3 separate regions of the Homo sapiens genome follow, and all the other regions are linked to region 2. The links come from fine-mapping of genetic effects on gene expression. A gene starts in region 2. Each other region holds a variant in brackets. All regions are shown on one strand. Distances are between the middles of the regions.

Region 1 (4,246 bases), 23 kb before region 2:
TCTGGGCATACTACTCAGATTTCAGTCACAGCTGTGAAAGCTGCTATTGATAAGATTTTTTGAAACTTCATTCTGTTGCTAAAGAAGGGAGAAATGGCCTTATTTTATTCAATACAGGAAAAAGAAACATTCACTTTTTTTTTGGTATCTTTCAGTTTCAGAGTCAAGTGGTGAGATCAAAGACTTTTCACCAAAAAATGTCATTTATGATGACTCATCCCAGTATTTGATCATGGAAAGAATTCTAAGTCAAGGCCCTGTGTATTCCAGTTTTAAAGGAGGCTGGAAATGCAAGGATCATACTGAGATGCTGCAAGAAAATCAGGGATGTATTAGGAAAGTAACAGTCTCTCATCAAGAAGCCCTGGCTCAACATATGAATATCAGTACTGTGGAGAGGCCCTATGGATGCCATGAATGTGGAAAAACTTTTGGTCGACGCTTTTCCCTGGTGTTACACCAGAGGACTCATACTGGAGAGAAACCATATGCATGTAAGGAATGTGGCAAAACCTTTAGCCAGATTTCAAACCTTGTGAAACACCAAATGATACATACTGGAAAGAAACCCCATGAGTGTAAGGACTGTAATAAAACATTCAGTTACCTTTCATTTCTTATTGAACACCAGAGAACGCACACTGGGGAGAAACCTTATGAATGTACTGAGTGTGGAAAGGCCTTTAGCCGTGCCTCCAACCTCACTCGACATCAAAGAATTCACATAGGAAAGAAACAATATATATGTAGGAAATGTGGTAAAGCATTTAGCAGTGGCTCAGAACTCATTCGCCACCAGATTACACATACTGGAGAGAAACCTTATGAATGCATTGAATGTGGGAAGGCATTTCGCCGTTTCTCACACCTTACTCGACATCAGAGCATCCATACAACCAAAACCCCGTATGAATGTAATGAATGTAGGAAAGCTTTCCGTTGTCACTCATTCCTTATTAAACATCAGAGAATTCATGCTGGAGAAAAGCTCTATGAATGTGATGAATGTGGTAAAGTTTTCACTTGGCATGCATCCCTTATTCAACATACGAAGAGTCACACTGGAGAGAAACCCTATGCGTGTGCTGAATGTGATAAAGCCTTCAGCCGGAGCTTTTCCCTCATTCTACATCAGAGAACTCATACTGGAGAGAAACCCTATGTATGTAAGGTATGCAACAAATCCTTCAGCTGGAGCTCAAACCTTGCTAAACATCAGAGGACACACACTCTTGACAACCCCTATGAATATGAAAATTCATTTAATTACCACTCATTCCTTACTGAACACCAGTGAATTTACACTGCAAAGAAAAACTATGAATGTATGGAATTTTTTAAAAAGAAGTATAATGCCTTACTTCAGAGAACTCTTGGAAAGAAGCCTTATGTGAAAGTGATGACTGTGAAGTAATATGGCCCACACTTTATTCACCACCCTGGAGAAAAAAAAACCCAGGAATATGTGGAAAAGCCATTAATAACCACTCTTTTATTTTTTTGCAATAACAAGGTGAAATCAATATTGTTGAGAAGATTCTTCCATCTGGTAATGTTGAGAAGACTTCATTTGGTAGGAGTCCCTTACTTTACGTGTGTAAATTCCTACCAGGAAAGAATACATATCCAATAGATTGGAGAAAGCCAGAGATTAGCCCTCATTCCGCATCTGTCAACCAGGACAGAAAGCATGGACAAGGGATGAGCTTTACAAAGATGATGCACTTTGGAGATCAGAAAATTCATATTTAAGCAAAGTGATACAAACACAGTGATTTGGGAATGCCTTCATTTACAATGCAATACTTACATTTTAATACTCTTGTAGGAGAAAAAGCAACTGTATAAATGAATGTAGAGTGACTTTCTGCAATATTTCAAACCTATATCAGAGAATTACACTGTGGGAAAACTACCATTGTAATAAGTGTAGCAAAATCTCCTTAGATATCTGAAAAGTCATACTGGATGGAATCTGTAGGAAACGGTTCTATTTTGAGGGAAGGGGGATTCCTTTTTGTTTTTTAAGTGAATTCAGAAAATGTTATAAATAAATCTTTTGGTTTATTATAAACCTTCTGCTTGCTGATTTTTTCCCACAGCATGTGATTCTGAAAATGTAACTACAATATTGACATAAAAAATAAACAGTAGTTTTTCTTGTTGAAACATACAAACATAACAAAGTGTTTTTAGGTGTTTTATGATTTTAACTTTCAGACAGAGTTTGGATTTAAGGTAATGCTGACAGTTATCCTTGAATCTGACTATAGACATTTGTTATTCAGTGTGAAACAAATATAAGATACATCACAGAAAATTACCAAGGTATTCTTCCTGTTTTGTTCCATGTACGGTGAAAACCGTTCTTTTGTAAGCA[G/T]GTATTTAAAACTGTTCTGGCATTACCACCTGCCCAGCTGACAAAGGTCACACCATCAGGGTTAGTTTGCCTTAATCAGGAAGGTAAGCAATTTTATTTTGTAGAAAGAGAGGTAGAGAATATGAATAGGAATGAATTTAGTGAGCATTAATGTAATGGCTGCATTGAGGGCACATTTGTAGGAGGTGTTATTAGATAAATATAAGTAATTTTGTAAGAGGTGAAATTTATAAAAGTTTTAGCCCAAAAACACCTTATTTACATGTACTAGAGTTCTAAATACATTATCAGAAGTGTATTTCCTCAAACCTGCCATTGGCATGCCATATTGGTACATACATTTAGAAGCTTCTCAAGTTTCCATAAGAGTTGTTTCAGAGAGGCTGATTTATCTTACAATAGTGTACAGTCTGACTCGAATACAAGCAGCATGCCTTACTACGTATGGGTATCTAATATCTGATTTGATTTTCTCAAGCAGCATGCCTTATTACATATGGGTATTTAATATCTGATTTGGTGTCCTCAAGCAGCATGCCTTATTACATATGGGTATCTAGTATCTGATTTGGTTTTCTCAGGCAGGAATGGTTTGTATCAGGGTAAAAATCAAGTTACCCTGTCAGCAAAATTAGGATATGAAAAATTCATTATTTATTTATTTAAGAGTATACTCAATTTCTCCCATTATCTGCTCCACATCCACTTTCCTTCCTACTGTTTACTCTGTGGGGATGCACCTCATGAACTATATCAGAGGTCATCAAGCTACAGCCCATGGGCCAGGTATTCATTTACATAGTCTATGGCTCCTTACCTCTATAACTGAAGAGTTTAATATACAGCCATAAAGGTTAAACATTTACTATCTAGCCCTTTACAGAAAAACTTGGCCAACCCCTGACTACATCAAATCTTTGCCCTCTAGTTTTTGTTGAGTGCAGCCAACATTGAGAACGTTTACTTTGGAGCAATCTCCAATTAACCAAAGTGATACAAACACAGTGATTTGGGAATGCCTTCAATTACAATGCAATACTTAAATTTTAATACTCTTGTAGGAGAAAAAGCAACTGTATAAATGAATGTAGAGTGAATTTCTGCAATATTTCAAACCTATATCAGAGAATTACACTGTGGGAAAACTACCATTGTAATAAGTGTAGCAAAATCTTCTTAGATATCTGAAAAGTCATACTGGATGGAATCCAGTGTCCAATCTTTTGGCATCCCTGGGCCACATTGGAAGAATTGTCTTGGGCCACATATAAAATACGTGAACACTAATGATAGCTATCAGTTATTGTGGCTCAAGAAAATTCTTCTTCTGGTGTAGCCCAGGGAAGCCAAAAGATTGGACACCTCTGCTTTAGAGGGAGATGTAACTATCAATGAATTATTATGTTCATTTTTTCCCTTAGCCAGAGAAAGGCCAAAAGACATTCCCGTCAGGGTATTAAGAAATACATTGGTGAGGAGTTTACCACCATCCTTGGACAACTCTGTGGTACCCACCCTCTCTAGACTGTAGATGATGCAGAACTTCTATAATGAAAGTAAGATCCCAATTTCAGTAGAGATCATAGGATCTTGGCATGGGAGGGGTTGGGTAAAATCTGCACAAGAGTCCAAGGGATGCACTGTTAATGAGAATTTTAACCATATAGGTGGCAATGGCTAAATGATCATAGGGTTCCTAGAAATAAATTGATAGCCCACAAACATACTACTTGACATATGGTTGAAGCCAGTTCACTTAAATATTCTCAAGTTCACTTAAATATTCTCAACTAAGGGAGAGGCAGGTCCCTTTAAGAAAAACTATTGCAGTGGGGGACGGGGGGCTCATATGTACACTGTGAAAAA
Region 2 (4,246 bases):
AAAAAATACAAAAAATTAACCGGGCATGGCAGTGTGCGCCTGTGATCCCAGCTATTCCAGAGGCTGAGGCAGGAGAATGGCTTGAACCCGGGATGTGGAAGTTGCAGTGAGCAGAGATCCTGCCATTGCATTCCCGCCTGGGCGAGAGAGAGAGACTCTGTCTCAAAAACAAACAAACAAACAAAAACAAAAATTAGCTGGATTAGCCGGGCGTGGTGGGGCCTGAGGCAGGAGAATCGCTTGAATCCGGGTGGTAGAGGCTACAGTGAGCCGAGATCACGCCACTGCACTCCAGCCTGGAGACAGAGTGAAACTCTGTCTCGAAAAAAAAAAAAAAGTAGAAAAACAGAGACAAAGTAAAAGAAAAATTTAAAAATTAAGAGCAAAACTTACTGTAATAGGACCCCCCTCCCCAAAAAAGACCAAAACAAAACAACAAAAAAACCAAAACCAAATCTACATTTTTGAAAAGACTATGTACACATATACCTTATAGGAGTAATCAAGAAAAAAAGGCCTAGATAATTAGGTTCAAAAAAGAAAAAAATAACAATTACAGCAGTAAAATATTAAAAAGTGGTGATTTTAAAAATCACCATAGAAATTACTTACAGTGATAAAATAGCATGGGCAATTTTATGCCAATAAATTTGAAAAATTAGATTAAAAACAATTATCTAGGAAAGGTATCTAAAACAGAATACGAACTAAAAAACCTAATCAATGAGACTTTTTAAAAAATTGAGTCAGGGCCGGGTGCGGTGGCTCACGCTTGTAATCTCAGCGCTTTGGGAGGCCGAGGCAGGCTGATCACCTGAGGTCGGGAGTTCCAGACCAGCCTGACCAACATGGAGAAACCCCATCTCCACTAAAAATACAGAATTAGCTGGGCGTGGTGGCTCATGTCTGTAATCCCGGCAACTCACAAGACTGAGGCAGAAGAATCACTTGAACCCGGGAGGCGGAGGTTGCTGTGAGCCAAGATGGCGCCATTGCACTCCAGCCTGGGCAACAAAGAGCGAAACTCTGTCTCAAAAAAAAAAAAAAAAAAAATTGAGTCAGAAGTTAAATGCGTACTAAATATTTTAAGACCAAATAGCACCAAACTTTTGGAGGCGGGCGGGGGGCGGTGAGGGGTGGTGACCTGTTTTACAGAATAGAAGAGAGACTGTGCTGTCCAAATTATTCATGAAGCTTGTAAAATCTTGTTAGTATAACGGGCAAGGATAGTACACAAAAAGATTAAAACACAATCTTGTGAGCATAGGTGAAGTCAAAGGGAAACAGCCAATTGAATACACCAGAGTATTAAAGAAATAAAACCATATCGCATTCAACCACAGTATAAGGCAATAGGTGAAAAAAACGATGGCTGTGATTCAACTCATTACTAGGTTTAGAGATTCAAGAGAGGCTGCTGGACAGAGGCGTGCACCCTTTAGCCCTCCCGTGTTGCTTAGAGAAGGAGGCAAACGCGCATCCCCGGCCCCCCAGCGCTCCCTGCGTGGCACCCGCAGCCAGCCCGGGACCCCTCCGCCCCGCGCGCCCCTGGTCCCCACTCGCTCCCCGCGCTCCACTCGCACCCGGTAAGTAGCCCCTCCTCCCTCAAGGGCCTCTCCCACCGCCGCCTCCCGGGCAGGCTCCCTGCTGCTCAGACTCCCGTGAGGCGATCCCTGCACGCAGGAGAACTCAGCGGGCCAGGCTGATCCCACGAGGGACTTGTCCCGGGTGAACGAGCCACAGGCCCGCATGCTCACCCGTCCTCAGTGCCTGCCTCCAGGCGTCCGCGGTCCCGCCCGAGGGGGACGCGAGGCCGAACTACGTTTCCCAGGAGCTCCTGCGCCGCCCCGCAGAGGGGCCTGGTCTGTGCGTCACGGACGCGCTCTGGGCCGAAGGCCCGCAGGGTCCGGCACAGAGTGGCGGCTGCGGCGCCGGCGACGAATCGCCGGCTCTAGGGTCCCGGGGCGCGCGGCTGACGGGCTGGGGGCGGAGCGTGGCCTGAACGCCAGGCTGGGGCGCGTGCGTAACGGTGTGTGTTGTGGGTGCGTGTGCGTGCGTTCGCAGCAGGGGCGGGCGTAGGACCAATGGGGGCGGGGCGCGTGCGCGTGCGTGACGTCAGGCCACGGGGAGGTGGCGCCGCCGTGCCGAGCCGGCCTCAGACTCACCTCTGACGCCGCTCTTCGCGCTCCGCTGGTGAATGGAGTCGCGTTCTCTGTTTTGCTGTTGCTGCTGCCTTTGTGACGGGATCGCTTTCTCCCATCGAACCTTCTAGTTGCTTATTGCAGGTATATACGAAAGTGCTGAATTTTGTGTTTGCATCGTCATCAGGCGCGTGTTGAGCCCTTTAGTAATGTAGCAGTGTATTAGCTTCGTATTTCTAGGTAGACGGTAATTTCGTCAATGAAAAAATTTAACGGTGATCGTCACCCCTTGCCTCAGTCACTTTCTGTCCCTCGCGCGGCCCCGGCGTTCACGGCGGACGTTCTTGTTCTGTGGAGAATAACGGCTGCACCTGGAGATTGACGCAGAGTGGGCGGCGGTGGTGGTAAGTTTGAACCAGATATTTTCAGTAATACAAAATAAGGTTTCTTCTAGTCTAACTTCCATTTTTCCCCCCAGCTGGGATAGATGTTTAAAATTTTGCATATGGCCTTTCTAGTATTTGTTGAAATAGTGACGCCGATTCGTGTGTGGTCTTTTAAAAACAAATCCTGCATCTCTAGCTCTTAGCTTCCTCATCTTTGTTTTGTTTTTTAATCAGATAGATTAACTGAAGGCGTGTTTGTGTGGTTAATCTATTTTTTTTATTTTCAGAGACAGATCATAAGTTTAATTACTATATTTTTATTTTCCCTTGACACTAGATATATATACGCCATCTAACACATAATATGAGTGTCAAAGATAAGGTTAACATCAAGATTTCGTACGTAGATCCCACCCAAAGTGTATGCAGAAGGTGAACAATTTCAATTCCAGCTATACATTAATTGCAGAAAGATACTGTTAATTAAAAAAAAAAAAGTAAAAGGGAAGGCAGGATGTCACCCAGAATGCCAGCCAACAAGTGTTATTAGGTTAGAAATGACTGCAGTTAGGTCTCCGAGAACTGGATAGCACAAATCCTCCCTACCCTTTTGAAAATTACCTCCACACTAACTTTTCTCTTGTGACATAACTAATCTCTTCTGTTTTACTAAAATTGTCCCCCATCTTCCAAAGCCTCTTGGATGGTAAGTTGCACACGCTCCTGCCTCTTTTTGAAAGTTACATTTGTTTTTTGATTACTTCTCTCAGCATGCATTTCTTTAGCTCTTAGTATATGCTAGTCACAAGGGCAGAGATTTGAGATACACATCATAAATTAAATGAGAATTTCTGCTTATCAGTATTTTATATAAGCACTGTCTGGAAATTCTACTTAGGACAATATTTAAGTAGATATGAGGCTTACCTTCTGGAAAAGAGATTACAAAATTATCCTTGTTAATTAATTAACTAATTAAGTCCCCAAAATGAGAAGAGATTCAATTACTATCAATAATTTGTAGTAAAGTGACTGAAAAGGAAATATATAAGCTAATAGATTGATTGCCGTCCTCAACAAGTTAGCACATACTTTTATTTTTAAAAAGTCTTCACAATAGGAAGAAAATAATTTTAGCTAGAAATATATGTGAACTATATGAGAAAAACTTCAAAACCTTACTAGGCAATTCTTACTAGAAGAATAAAGGATGAGTAAGAATAAAAACAGTTCTGTTTATAGATTATATTCAATTGTCAAGAAAATCTGAGAATTTTTTTTTTTTTTTTTGAGATAGAGTTTTGTTCTTGTTGCCCATGCTGGAGTGCAATGGCTCGATCTTGGCTCACTGCAACCTCTGCCTCCTGGGTTCAAGCAATTCTCCTGCCTCAACCTCCCTAGTAGCTGGGATTACAGGCGCCAGCCACCATGCCCAGCTAATTAACATATGCCAGTCACAAGGGCAGAGATTTGAGATACACATCTTAAATTAACAAGAGCAACAAGAGCGAAACTCCGTCTCAAAAAAAAAGTATTTTAAGGAAAAAGAAATTTCTTATTGTTAATATCTCTGTTGTGCCTACAAGAGACTCTTTTACTTTCATCAGCAGTACTCTTTCTAGCATGTCTCATGTCAGCCAGGGCTTTTAATTCTTCTGGCTATGAAGCAAGGTTGGGACAAGATATGATATAGGCCACCTTTGTCTGTGTATGTGCCTC
Region 3 (4,246 bases), 24 kb after region 2:
TACCACTCACTCTAGCATCTTGTGCTTTCGTTTGTCATAGAATCACTTCTTGCATTTTTGCCTCTCTTTGTTCTTTCATGTGACCCCTTCCCACAACTCAGTTCTCTGTGCAAGCTCTGGAGTGGGACTCTTATCACCTTCTTTTCTGAGAGTTTGTTTTCTGCCAGGTAGAAAACTGCTGCAGAGAGCTCATAATTCCTGTTGCCTCAACTCTCCTTCCTTTCCAGAATGGCTGCTCACAGAAACACCAGTTTTTCCTACTGTACTTTAGATCTTTTTTTCTTTTCGAGATGGAGTTTCACTCAGTCTCCCAGGCTGGAGTGTAGTGGCGCGATCTAGGCTCACTGCAACCTCCGCCTCCCAGGTTTAAGCGATTCTTCCGCCTTAGCCTCCCAAAGAACCAGGAATTACAGGCATGCACCACCACGCCCAGCTAATTTTTGTATTTTTAGGAGAGATAGGGTTTTACCATGTTGGCTAGGCTGGTCTCGAACTCCTGACCTCAAGTGATCCGCCCACCTCGGCCTTCCAAAGTGCTGGGATTACAGGCGTGAGCCACCATGCCCAGCCTCTATCTAGTTTTGTATTTAATGTTTTAAAAATTTATTTATAGGCATTTCCCTGCATCTCAGACTTTGAGTGTGATGTAAATTAAATCTGAGTCTTACTTGTCCTGTAATTTAGCCTCAAGTTCTTTCCCATGAAGGCTTTTATGATTCCTCATTAAGTATTGGCCTCTTCCTCTTCTGAACTTCCACTTAGTTTAAATCTCTACTTTGAAATATTATCATAAGCTCTTTTTTACTTTTTAGTATTTGCCTTGTAGGTGATTGTATCAAAATGGTATCTCAAAGCAAGTCTTTCTTTGGGACCATGGGAGGAAATATTGTTATATTTTCTTTTTATTACTTACCTTCTTTCTTTCTTTTCTATTTTGTTCATCTAGTAAGCTTTCCTGAATGTCTGTTGACAAGTATCCAAAAATAACAATTATTAACTGGACCCAGCAGTTTATATTTTTATTGAGAATTTATTGTCAAAAGAAATACTCAGACTTCATGGGCTTAAAGGCATGGAGTTTTACAGAATCTACAAGGCTGTTAAATTCATTATCAAATCAAAAAATATAATGAATGATGATTTTTAAAAATCAGATGATTAGTTGATTGATGGGTCCAACAGACTTCGACAATAACTTACTGGCATGGTTGTATTACATAATATGTGGAAGATTTTAGGATATTAATAAAACACCTCATTCTTATGACCAAACTCTCCACTCAGAATTGTCCTCCATAAGTGCTCAGCACCCCCCTTATCATAGATATTCTTCATAGAATCTTCCAGTTGGCATTTGTAGGTTGAAAAACTTCTCCATAAGATTTTCTGATGTTCTGGGTTGGGGAAAGGGAGGAAAGGGTGGTGTATTTCCTATTAAAAATCATCAGGATGGGGAAGAAACTAGGAACTAACTAAGTGGTAAGGGACAGGACTGGTCGGGGTGGGATTGTATAAGGAAGTCATTTAGGGACCAGGCCTGGCACAGGGATCATTTACCAGGTGTATTAGTTTCCTGGGGCTGCGGTAACAAAGAACCAGCAGTTAGGTGGCTCAAAACAACCAAAATGTATCATGTCACAGCTGGAGGCTGTTAAGTCTAAAATGAAGATGTCAGTGGGGCTCTGCTACGCTTCTAGGAGAGGGTCTTTCCTTATCTCTTCCAGGCTCTGCTGGCCCCAGGTGTTCCTTGGCTTGTGGATATATCATT[C/T]CAGTCTTGGTCTCCATGTTCACATGGTCTCTTCCCCTGTGTCTGTGTCTTTTTTATGGAGGACCACCCTCATACTGGATTAGGGGCCCATCCTATTTCTGGTACTACCTCATCATAACTAATTACATCTGGAAAGACTGTATTTCCAAATATGGTCATATTCTGAGATACTGAGGATTAAAACTTCAACATACCTTTTTGTCGGCGGGGGGGATACAGTTTAACCCATAATACCAGGTAAGAGTGGAATGTCACCCCACTTATGTAAGATGAAGTGGTATCATCAGTGTATTTTTTAGGTTTGGGATTATATGTTTTACCTGAAAGACATTGAGAAACAGATAAAGCTCTTATTCAAGAGAAATAATTTGCAGTAATATACACAGGTAGCAGATGGCAGAAATTCTAAGAGCGTATGGGTCAGGCTTCAGATTCTAAGTTCACATCTTGTGGTAGTAGTCCTATCAGTTGTTAAGTCCTTATGTTTCAGAGCGAAGAAATCAAAAAAATGAGAAGAATGATGATGATTATTGTAAATCTTATTGCTTTGACCATAAATGTGCCAGAGACTGTAATAGGCTCATGCTTTATATAATATAATAATCTTAAATAACAAATACTGTCATCCTTAGATTACAGATAAGCAAAATGAATTCTTCAAAGTTTAGCAACTCGTCTAAATTCACCACTAGTCGTAATATAAAACTTAGAACTTGCATCTTGGTAACTTTTGTGCAGTTACTCTTCCACCTTGTCATGTAGCTGCTCTGAGAGGTCTGTTGTGTCACTCATCTGGGTGTTATTCTATAGTGCTTCTGTGATTTGGATAGAAAGCATTGCCTGACGTATGGCTGCATTCATGGTTTAAGAATACTAAATTGGGCCGGACGCACTGGCTCACGCCTATAATCCCAGCACTTTGGGAGGCTAAGGCGGGTGGATCACCTGAAGTCAGGAGTTCAAGACCAGCCTGGCCAACATAGTGAAACCCTGTCTCTGCTAAAAATATTAAAAATTAACCAGGCATGGTGGCAGGTGCCTGTAATCCCAGCTACTTGGGAGGCTGAGGCAGGAGAATCATTTGAACCTGGGAGGCGGAGGTTGCATTGAGCCAAGATTGTGTCATTGCACTCCAGCCTGGACAACAAGAGCGAAACTGTCTCAAAAAAAAAAAAAAGAGAGAGAATACTAAATTGATAGTAATGTGAAGAATGTGTGTCAGGGGAAAGTCCTGACAACAAGTAGACAGGTGAGGAACTTAGACTGTTAATATCTGGATTAGAAAATGAGAGTGCAGTCCTTTTTATGGAATTTCCCTTATTTCTACCCTCACCATTGATACCCTGATCCCATGTGTCATGCTGTGTCCTGTGGCTTCTCCTTACTCCTTTTGCCCTTTGTGAGTACTGTATACCACAATGCATTTATTGTTTACCGCTCCATTCTTCCTTTTCTCATTCTCTATCAAAGTTATAAAGCCATATTTGAAAGCAACTGTGTACATCTTGCATACTTTGTCTCCACATACATCCTAGCATTCTCACCTTAATACTCTGTTTAGTTACACAAACATTTTTCATTTCTTTCAGATTCAGAGACTGCATTTGAAATCAAATCATCAGTTTCCAGCAGGAGCATTTTTAAAGATAAGCAATCCTGTGACATTAAAATGGAAGGAATGGCAAGGAATGATCTCTGGTATTTGTCATTAGAAGAAGTCTGGAAATGTAGAGACCAGTTAGACAAGTATCAGGAAAACCCAGAGAGACATTTGAGGCAAGTGGCATTCACCCAAAAGAAAGTACTTACTCAGGAGAGAGTCTCTGAAAGTGGTAAATATGGGGGAAACTGTCTTCTTCCTGCTCAGCTAGTACTGAGAGAGTATTTCCATAAACGTGACTCACATACTAAAAGTTTAAAACATGATTTAGTTCTTAATGGTCATCAGGACAGTTGTGCAAGTAACAGTAATGAATGTGGTCAAACTTTCTGTCAAAACATTCACCTTATTCAGTTTGCAAGAACTCACACAGGTGATAAATCCTACAAATGCCCTGATAATGACAACTCTCTTACTCATGGTTCATCTCTTGGTATATCAAAGGGCATACATAGAGAGAAACCCTATGAATGTAAGGAATGTGGAAAATTCTTCAGCTGGCGCTCTAATCTTACTAGGCATCAGCTTATTCATACTGGAGAAAAACCCTATGAGTGTAAAGAATGTGGAAAGTCTTTCAGCCGGAGTTCTCACCTCATTGGACATCAAAAGACCCATACTGGTGAGGAACCCTATGAATGTAAAGAATGTGGAAAATCCTTCAGCTGGTTCTCTCACCTTGTTACTCATCAGAGAACTCATACAGGAGACAAACTGTACACATGTAATCAGTGTGGGAAATCTTTTGTTCATAGCTCTAGGCTTATTAGACACCAGAGGACACATACTGGAGAGAAACCCTATGAATGTCCTGAATG

Evidence for each region. PIP is the estimated chance that this variant, and not a neighbour inherited with it, causes the effect.
Region 1: its variant is the best candidate, but not a certain one, in a credible set for the expression of ZNF891 in sun-exposed skin (GTEx, PIP 0.90).
Region 3: its variant is the best candidate, but not a certain one, in a credible set for the expression of ZNF891 in whole blood (TOPMed, PIP 0.61).

What each region holds. Positions count from the first base shown.
Region 1 is chr12:133,105,355-133,109,600 of GRCh38, forward strand. ZNF140 (zinc finger protein 140) reads left to right here. Exons shown (of 5, transcript NM_003440.4): 5 at 156-2,074. The coding sequence ends at 1,297. ZNF891 (zinc finger protein 891) reads right to left here. Exons shown (of 2, transcript NM_001277291.2): 2 at 1-4,246. Among named protein-coding and RNA genes, the nearest start is that of ZNF891, 23 kb to the right of the region's middle. The variant G/T (reference allele first, on the strand shown) is at 2,381.
Region 2 is chr12:133,128,470-133,132,715 of GRCh38, forward strand. ZNF891 (zinc finger protein 891) reads right to left here and starts at 1,805. Exons shown (of 2, transcript NM_001277291.2): 1 at 1,758-1,805. ZNF10 (zinc finger protein 10) reads left to right here and starts at 2,158. Exons shown (of 5, transcript NM_015394.5): 1 at 2,158-2,285. RefSeq lists silencers at 1,421-1,600, 1,971-2,210 and enhancers at 2,261-2,540, 3,623-3,792.
Region 3 is chr12:133,152,146-133,156,391 of GRCh38, forward strand. ZNF10 (zinc finger protein 10) reads left to right here. Exons shown (of 5, transcript NM_015394.5): 5 at 3,358-4,246. Among named protein-coding and RNA genes, the nearest start is that of ZNF10, 24 kb to the left of the region's middle. RefSeq lists an enhancer at 3,064-4,246. The variant C/T (reference allele first, on the strand shown) is at 1,769.